Linked DNA regions of Homo sapiens. The protein of the gene in region 2 purifies or fractionates together with the protein of the main gene of each other region. This does not show direct contact. Each region holds a gene or a part of one and is shown on either strand. Other genes may lie near its edges.

Evidence for each region.
Region 1: the proteins of SH3D19 (region 2) and METTL6 fractionate together in Homo sapiens (co-fractionation; one large-scale study listed by BioGRID). This does not show direct contact.

Annotation. Positions count from the first base shown.
Region 1 is NC_000003.12:15,413,774-15,417,595, forward strand, and holds part of METTL6 (tRNA N(3)-cytidine methyltransferase METTL6), read right to left. Parts: intron 2,170-3,822; coding exon 1,999-2,169; intron 1,885-1,998; coding exon of another isoform or gene 1,861-1,884; exon of another isoform or gene 1,846-1,860; intron 1,811-1,845; coding exon of another isoform or gene 1,725-1,810; intron 1,142-1,724; coding exon of another isoform or gene 1,036-1,141; exon of another isoform or gene 390-1,035; coding exon 248-389; exon of another isoform or gene 173-247; coding exon of another isoform or gene 34-172; exon of another isoform or gene 1-33. UniProt on the Homo sapiens protein: S-adenosyl-L-methionine-dependent methyltransferase that mediates N(3)-methylcytidine modification of residue 32 of the tRNA anticodon loop of tRNA(Ser), including tRNA(Ser)(UGA) and tRNA(Ser)(GCU).
Region 2 is NC_000004.12:151,129,822-151,133,643, reverse strand, and holds part of SH3D19 (SH3 domain-containing protein 19), read left to right. Parts: intron 1-407; coding exon 408-610; intron 611-1,260; coding exon 1,261-1,313; intron 1,314-3,822. UniProt on the Homo sapiens protein: May play a role in regulating A disintegrin and metalloproteases (ADAMs) in the signaling of EGFR-ligand shedding. May be involved in suppression of Ras-induced cellular transformation and Ras-mediated activation of ELK1.

The DNA.
Region 1 (3,822 bases), on a different chromosome or scaffold from region 2:
AGGCTGTCCATTAACCCAAGCTCATTAGGGGAGTCACTGACACCAGAGAAGGCTTGTGAGCTCTTCAAGGGCAGGGGCCAGGTCTGTGCCTTCCAGGTGCTGGGTAAATATTGTGCAGTAGAGGGCTTGTTTCAGGGTCTCGTGCACATGTCGCAAGCCTTCTCCAAGCAGCCTTGCAGTGATAATGCAATCAAATAAACAGAAACAAAGAATAAAACATTTAAAGACTGGATTCCATTCATCTTACCATCAGTAAAAAAATATGATCTGGTCCCATCTTGTCTAACATAAAAGTTTTCTCCAAGTTTGCTGCTGGCTTTAAACCTAAGCATGGCATGATCATACAGTCCGTAGTCACGAAACAAGACACTTTTGCCTGGTTTTAATACCTATGAAACAAAAGCAGGCTGAACATGACTTTGGAGAACCCTGTCAAAATAAAACCTGATTAAGTTAGGACTTAAAATAAATTTGTGATAGTTACTAAGGGGACAGACTGAAATGCCCATAATACGGAACCAAAATGGCCTACTACTTAAAAAGATAGTAAGACCAGGCAGGGCTCCATAACACTAAGACACTTCTTTTTTTTTTTTTTTTGAGATGGAGTCTTGCTCTGTCGCCCAGGCTGGAGTGCAGTGGCATAATCTCAGCTCACTGCAACCTCCGTCTCCCACGTTCAAGTGATTCTCGTGTCTCAGCCTCCCGAGTAGCTGGGATTATAGGTGCCCGCCACCATGCCCGGCTAATTTTTGTATTTTAGTAGAGATGAGGTTTCACCATGTTGGCCAGGCTAGTCTCGAACTCCTGACCTCAAGTAATTTGCCCACCTCAGTCTCCCAAAGTTGGGATTACAGGCGTGAGCCACCTCGCTCGTCCCTGAAGACAATTCTTGAGTACCTCCAAGAGCACCCTGGAATGTCCAGTGTCACAGGATTAAAATGTTAGAGACCAACCTGGGCAATATAGTGAGACCCCATCTCTACACAAAAATTAAAAATTAGCTGGATCTGGTAGTGCGTCCTGTAGTCCCAACTACTTCAGAGGCTGAGGTGGGAGAACTGCTTGAGCCCAGGAAGTTGAGGCTGCAGTGAGCCACGTCCATGCCACTGCACTCCAGCCTGAGTGACACAGCAAGACCCTGTCTCAAAAATAAATAAATAAGTGTTAGAGACAATAAATGAAAGTGTTATCCTCATTGAAGCACTTTCTTGCAACATTTTATTCACCATCTCCTAGTACTCAAACTGTATTCAACTGTCTCTTAAAAAAACAAACAAACAAACAAACAAAAAACCAGAATGTCGTTTTGGCTCTTTACTGATTCAGGTTGGTTTTCCTCATTCTGAGCCTCAGCTCTCATTTCATTGTGCCACAATGTATAGCTCAATCACGGTGCTAATGACTGATACATGCCTAGCATTTGACTGCTTAACCATACATTTTCTCATTGTATCTTCACCCAACTGTGGGACAAAGGAATGTGATTATTATTCTCACATGAGACACGGAAACCAATACTCAACAGGGTTAAGTGATCTGCCAATGATCATACATTAGCTTTTTTTAGACAAGGTCTTGCTATGTTGGCCAGGCTGGTTTCAAACTCCTGACCTCAAGTGATTCACCTGCCTTGGCATCCCAAAGTGTTGGGATTACAGGCATGAAACACCACACCTGGCCAAACTGTGTACTCTTGACCACTAAACCATAACTCCTCTCACCTTATAGCAGGACTCCATGGATCCCAGGTAACTGCAAAATCATCCTTGTCCCAGGGCTGGCGAAGCTCTGAAGAGCAGCCATGGCACTGCACAAATCAGAATTTAGGGTGGATGTTTTATGCCAGAGGACCCCTTTCTATACACTCACTACACAGCCTACCTAGTGAGAATGGAGAGACTATGTGAATCTAGACAGTACATGAGCCTCATGAGGGAAGGTAAGTAAAAGAATCCAGACTGTCCAACCCTCAAGTGCAGGCCCCAAATCACTAACCTTGTAAATGTTTTGTAAGACAAGGTGCATCTTATCAGGATGAACAGCTGACAGCACAAATATCAACATAACAACATCCACAGACTCTGGCGGTACATGATCCAGAAGATCATCTTTAGTCAGATCACACTGGAATACCTTGCATCTTTCTGTATCATATAAAGGATTTTGCTACAGGGGGAAGAAATACAAATGAATTTTAATGCAACCACTAGGCTGATACATATAGAAAAATACAACATCAAAAGGCGATCCAATTTCCACTTGTATACATAGAAATTATCACTGTTACCAGATAAAACTGATTAATAAATCACTCACTATAAAGCATGTAATATTCACTACTGCTACAGGAGCAAGACTTCATTTTAATAAATCATTTTTAACTGAGGAGACAATAAGAGTATCACGTACTCAAAACTGAGCATTTTAGAAGCATATTATTTCCAGAGGGATGATGATCCAAAACTGGCCTCTGCTTCTTTTTGTTTTTTAAAGAGACAGGGTCTCACTCTGTCTGCTGGGCTAGAGTGCAGTGGCATGATCATGGTTCACTGCAGCCTTCACCTCCTGAGCCCAAGTTATCCTCCCACTTCAGCCTCCTAAGTAGCTGGAACTACAGGTGTGCACCACTGCATCTGGCTAAATTTTTATTTTTATTTTTGTAAAGATGGGATCTTGCTATGTTGTACAGGCTAGTCTTGAACTCCTGGCCTCAAGTGATCCTCCCACTTCAGCCTTCCAAAGTGCTGGGATTACAGGCATGAGCCACTATGTCCTGCTGGCCTCTGGCTTCCTTAATCCTCCTTTGAATCATCTGCTTAAAGCCTAAACCCTATGAGAAGCCCTTCTAATTCCCCTTGATGAGATGCTCCCGCAGTTCTTCTGGGGTATATTTTCTCTTTATGCAGCAAGCTAAATAAACTTAACCTTTTTTTGACTACAAATGTGTTCCTGGTACATTTTGGTTGGTAGGCTTCAACACATGTATAGGAGTATTATGAAGAAAAACATTAAACTTCTATTTCATGTAAATGAGGACCTGAATAAATAGATATACAAAGTTACTGGATGGGAAAATTAAATGCAAAATTAAAAAGATGTCAATTCTATTCATAATTCCATTTGTAAATCCAATGCAATCTAAACTGATTCCCAACAGATTTCTAGAAACTAGACAGGGTGAATCTAATTCATCATAAAGTAAAAATCTTTAAGAATAGCCAAGTCAATTTTTAAAATGATGAACAATGAGGTAGGTATGGTGGCTCATGCCTGTAATCCCAGCAACCTGGGAGACTGAAGTGAAAGGATCGCTTGAGTTCAAAGCTGCAGTGAGCTATGATCCATGCCACTGCAAGCTAGCCTGGAAAACAGAGCAAGATCTCATCTTTAAAAAAATAGGCCAGGTGCGGTGGCTCACGCCTGTAATCCCAGCACTTTGGGAGGCCAAGGCAGGTGGATCATGAGGTCAGGAGTTTGAGACCAGCCTGGCCAATATGGTGAAACCCCATCTCTACTAAAAATACAAAAATTAGCTGGGCGTGGTGACCCGCACCTGTAGTCCCAGTTACTGGGAAGACTGAGGCAGAAGAATCGCTTGAACCTGGGAGGCGGAGGTTGTAGTGAGCCGAGATCATGCCACTGCACGCCAGCCTGCATGATAGAGACTCTGTCTCAAAAATAAATAAATAAATAAATAAATAAATAAATAAAATAGAATGAAGAATAATAAAGGAGAAGATACACTACTGGATATCAAAATATATTACAAAACGTAGTAATAAAACAACATGGTTTGAGAATGGAGACAAATGTATCACT
Region 2 (3,822 bases):
AGTCAGAAAATTTGATTAATTGCCCTGAGATTCTCAGGGTTAGCACTCCTCAACTCAGTGCATTTATGATTGGAAGGGTTCAGACTGGACCACGGATTGCTGTGGCCCAAGGATACAAACATACGGAGACTGGGGAGTAAGAAGATCAAAAGACACAGCAGGGTAAACTAACCACCCAGCTGCGTGCACTCCGCGACCTTGAGCTTCAGCCTTTCTGAGTGAATAGGTTCATATCTGTTACTTAAAAGTGTAACTTACTCTTTTTCATGGAATAATTTCAAATTAGCCTAGTATACCTTATTCCATGGTAAACCCAGAATAAATATTTATTGAAAGACTGAATGAAGGTTTTTAAGCATTTTAAAAGCACTCTCTAGTCTAATCCACAAAATGTGTTCTTCATTCAGAGGCTCAAGATGTGTTGCTCGGTTTGAATATATTGGAGAGCAGAAGGATGAGTTGAGTTTCTCAGAGGGAGAAATTATTATTCTTAAAGAGTATGTGAATGAGGAATGGGCCAGAGGAGAAGTTCGAGGCAGAACTGGGATTTTCCCCCTGAACTTTGTGGAGCCTGTTGAGGATTATCCCACCTCTGGTGCAAATGTTTTAAGTGAGTATAGAGAATTTTTTTTATTATGTTATGTCCTAATTCAAATAAACCAAATAATATCATTATACTTAAGCTGTATAATAATCCATATTGCCATATTTTTACGGTAGAAGGAAAACTGATTTTAAAATGGGAATTTGTGTGGGATAGACATTATTTGTGGGCATCTCTCAAAGAGCTGGTTTTGGTATTTTAGGTAATTAGCAATAGCTTCATATAAGAAATGGCAAAGAGGCTGGGTATGATGGCTCAGACCTGTAATTCCAACACTTTGAGAGGCCACGGTGGGCGGATTGCCTGAGACCAGGAGTTCAAGGCTGCAGTGAGCTATGATTGTACCACTGCACTCCAGCCTGGGCAACAGAGCCAGACTCTGTATCTAATAAATAAATAGCAAAGACTTTTAAACAGAAATGAACTATAGACTGTTACTAATGTATATAGACTATAAATAGTTGTGTTTACAATTAACTAAACAAGCTCAGTGAAGTTAGTACAGGTTAACGCAACATAGACAATACATGAAGAGACCGGAGTGGAATCCCAGAGTCTTCACTCCCACCTCCCACCTCAACCATTTGTTTTTAATACTATGTGGCCTTCACATCTAATGTTCTGACTTCTTGTGTTTGTTTGTTTTTTTAATGTAGGCACAAAGGTACCACTGAAAACCAAAAAAGAAGATTCTGGCTCAAACTCTCAGGTAGGCTGCTTGAACAGATGACTATAGTGACAGCCAGGTTCAGACTCTGGGAGGAATATTAAAATCATAATTTTCAAGAGAATATAGTATGAATTAATTTTTCAATTCATACAACAAATGTTTGTAATAAATTCTTAGATGGTTAATATATTTTATATAGAGAGCTCATACAAAAACATGTAAACCCTGATAGAAAATGAAAACAGAGACTGGGCAGAGTGGCTCATGCCTGTAATCCCAACACTTTGGGAAGCCAAGGCAGGTGGATTACCTGAGGTTAGGAGTTCGAGACCAGCCTGGCCAACATGGTGAAACCCTGTCTCTACTAAAAATACAAAAATTAACCAGGCATGGTGGCGTGCACCTGTAGTCCCAGCTACTTGGAAGGCTGAAGCAGGAAAATAGCTTGAACCTGGCGGTGGAGGTTGCAGTGAGCCAAGATAGCACCACTGCATTCCAGCCTGGGTGGCAGTGCGAGACTCTATCTCAAAAAAGAAAGAAAGAAAATGATAAAAGAGACATGATTAGAGAATTCATAAAAGAGGCTGTGCGCGGTGGCTCATGCCTGTAATCCCAGCACTTTGGGAAGCCGAGGCGGGCGGATCATGAGGTCAGGGGATCGAGACCACCCTGGCTAACACGGTGAAACCCCGTCTCTACTAAAAATACAAAAAAAATCAGCCGGGTGTGGTGACCAGCGCGCGTATTCCCAGCTACTCAGGAGGCTGAGGCAGGGGAATGGCGTGAACCCGGGGGGCAGAGTTTGCAGTGAGCCAAGATTGCGCCACTGCACTCCCGCCTGGGAGACAGAGCAAGACTCTGCCTCAAAAAAAAAGAAAAAAAGAAAAAAAGAATTCATAAAAGAGATACCATAAGTGGCTAATATTGAAAAAATATTTAACCTTTCTAATAATCAAGAAAATATATAATAAAGCAGCAATAAAATACCATTTAACCTATTCAGTTAACAAAGATTCAGTGCAGCTCAGCACTAAACAAGCAATTATAAGCATGTGAGTGTTAAAAAAAAAAGAGAGAAAGTACACATTCTTATTTGTCACCCTAAGAAAAGGATAAAAAATGAGATAGGGTTTTAGTCACAAAGATGAGCATAGTGCTAATATAATAAGAAAAAATTGGAAACAACCTAAATATGACCATTATTGGGAGAATATTCTAAAGCTATGAAAAACTAGATTTATCAAATAAAATAATGTTTTTAAATGTCATGAGAGGAAACATAGGGAAAGGGGATATAAAATTGAATATATAGCATAAAAAGACTGGAAGGAAATTATTCAAGTTACTAGTATTAAATTGCATCTAGGTAGTGAGATTATATATACGGGTAGGTTTTTTTCCCCCACTTCTTTTTTTTTTTTCTTTTTTTTGAGACGGAGTCTTACTCCGTCGCCCAGGCTGGAGTGCAGTGGCGCAGTCTTGGCTCACTGCAACCTCTGCTGCCGGCTTCAAGTGATTCTCCTGACTCAACCTCCTGAGTAAGCTGGGTTTACAGGTGCCTGCCACTGTGCTTCGCTAATTTTTGTAGTTTTAGCAGAAACGGGGTTTTACCGTCTTGGCCAGGCTGGTCTTGAACTCCTGACCTCGTGATCCACCCACCTCGGCCTCCCTAAGTGCTGGGATTACTGGCATGAGCCACTGCGCCTGGCCTTCTCCATTTCTTTATACGTTTCTCAACTTTCCAAATATTTAGGAACATTTGTTTCATTTGTATAATGAGAAAGAGAAAAATAGTGGGTTAAAATTTTTACACTGTTCAGCATGACCCCAGAAATGCTTAAAGGTACTAGGAATGTGGTGCCTTCTGTTGTTTTTAGTTTTTTGTTGTTTTTGGTTTTATTTTGGTTTTTTTGTTTTGTTTTGTTTTGTTTTTTTGAGACAGGATCTCACTCTGATGCCCAGGCTAAGTGCAGTGTCGAGGTCTCAGCTCACTGCAACCTCTGCTTCCCAGGCTCAAGCAATCCACCTCAGCCTCCTAAGTAGCTGGGATGACAGGCACACACCACCACTCCCAGCTAATTTTTGTATTTTTTGTAGACAGGGTCTCATTTTGTTGCCCAGGCTGGTCTCAAAATCCTGGGCTCAAGCGCTCCACCTGCCTCAGCCTCCCAAGGTACTAGGATTACAGGGGTGATCCACCACATCCGGCCTTCCATTGTTTTTTGTGACAAATTTAGAAGAGTTAAGCCTGATGGGATCATTGTGTTTGTGAAAATGTCACTTGTAATTGGCCTGTGTGTCCCTTAATTCTTTATCCCTACCCACTGATAAAGTGAAACAGGAAGGAAACTGACTACAGTTCTCCAAAAGGAAATGTTCACATGGTTGTTGCCTGCATTTTTGGAGAATGATAAGTTCCATCCTTTAGGGTTGGTTACTCAAGTGCAGGAGCAAGAGGGGGTTAGTGTTGTTTGCTTGCTTTTTGTTTTTGTTTTATAAGCCATCAGTTATTGAGCACTTAAGATGTGCCAGGCACTGGGCTAAATGT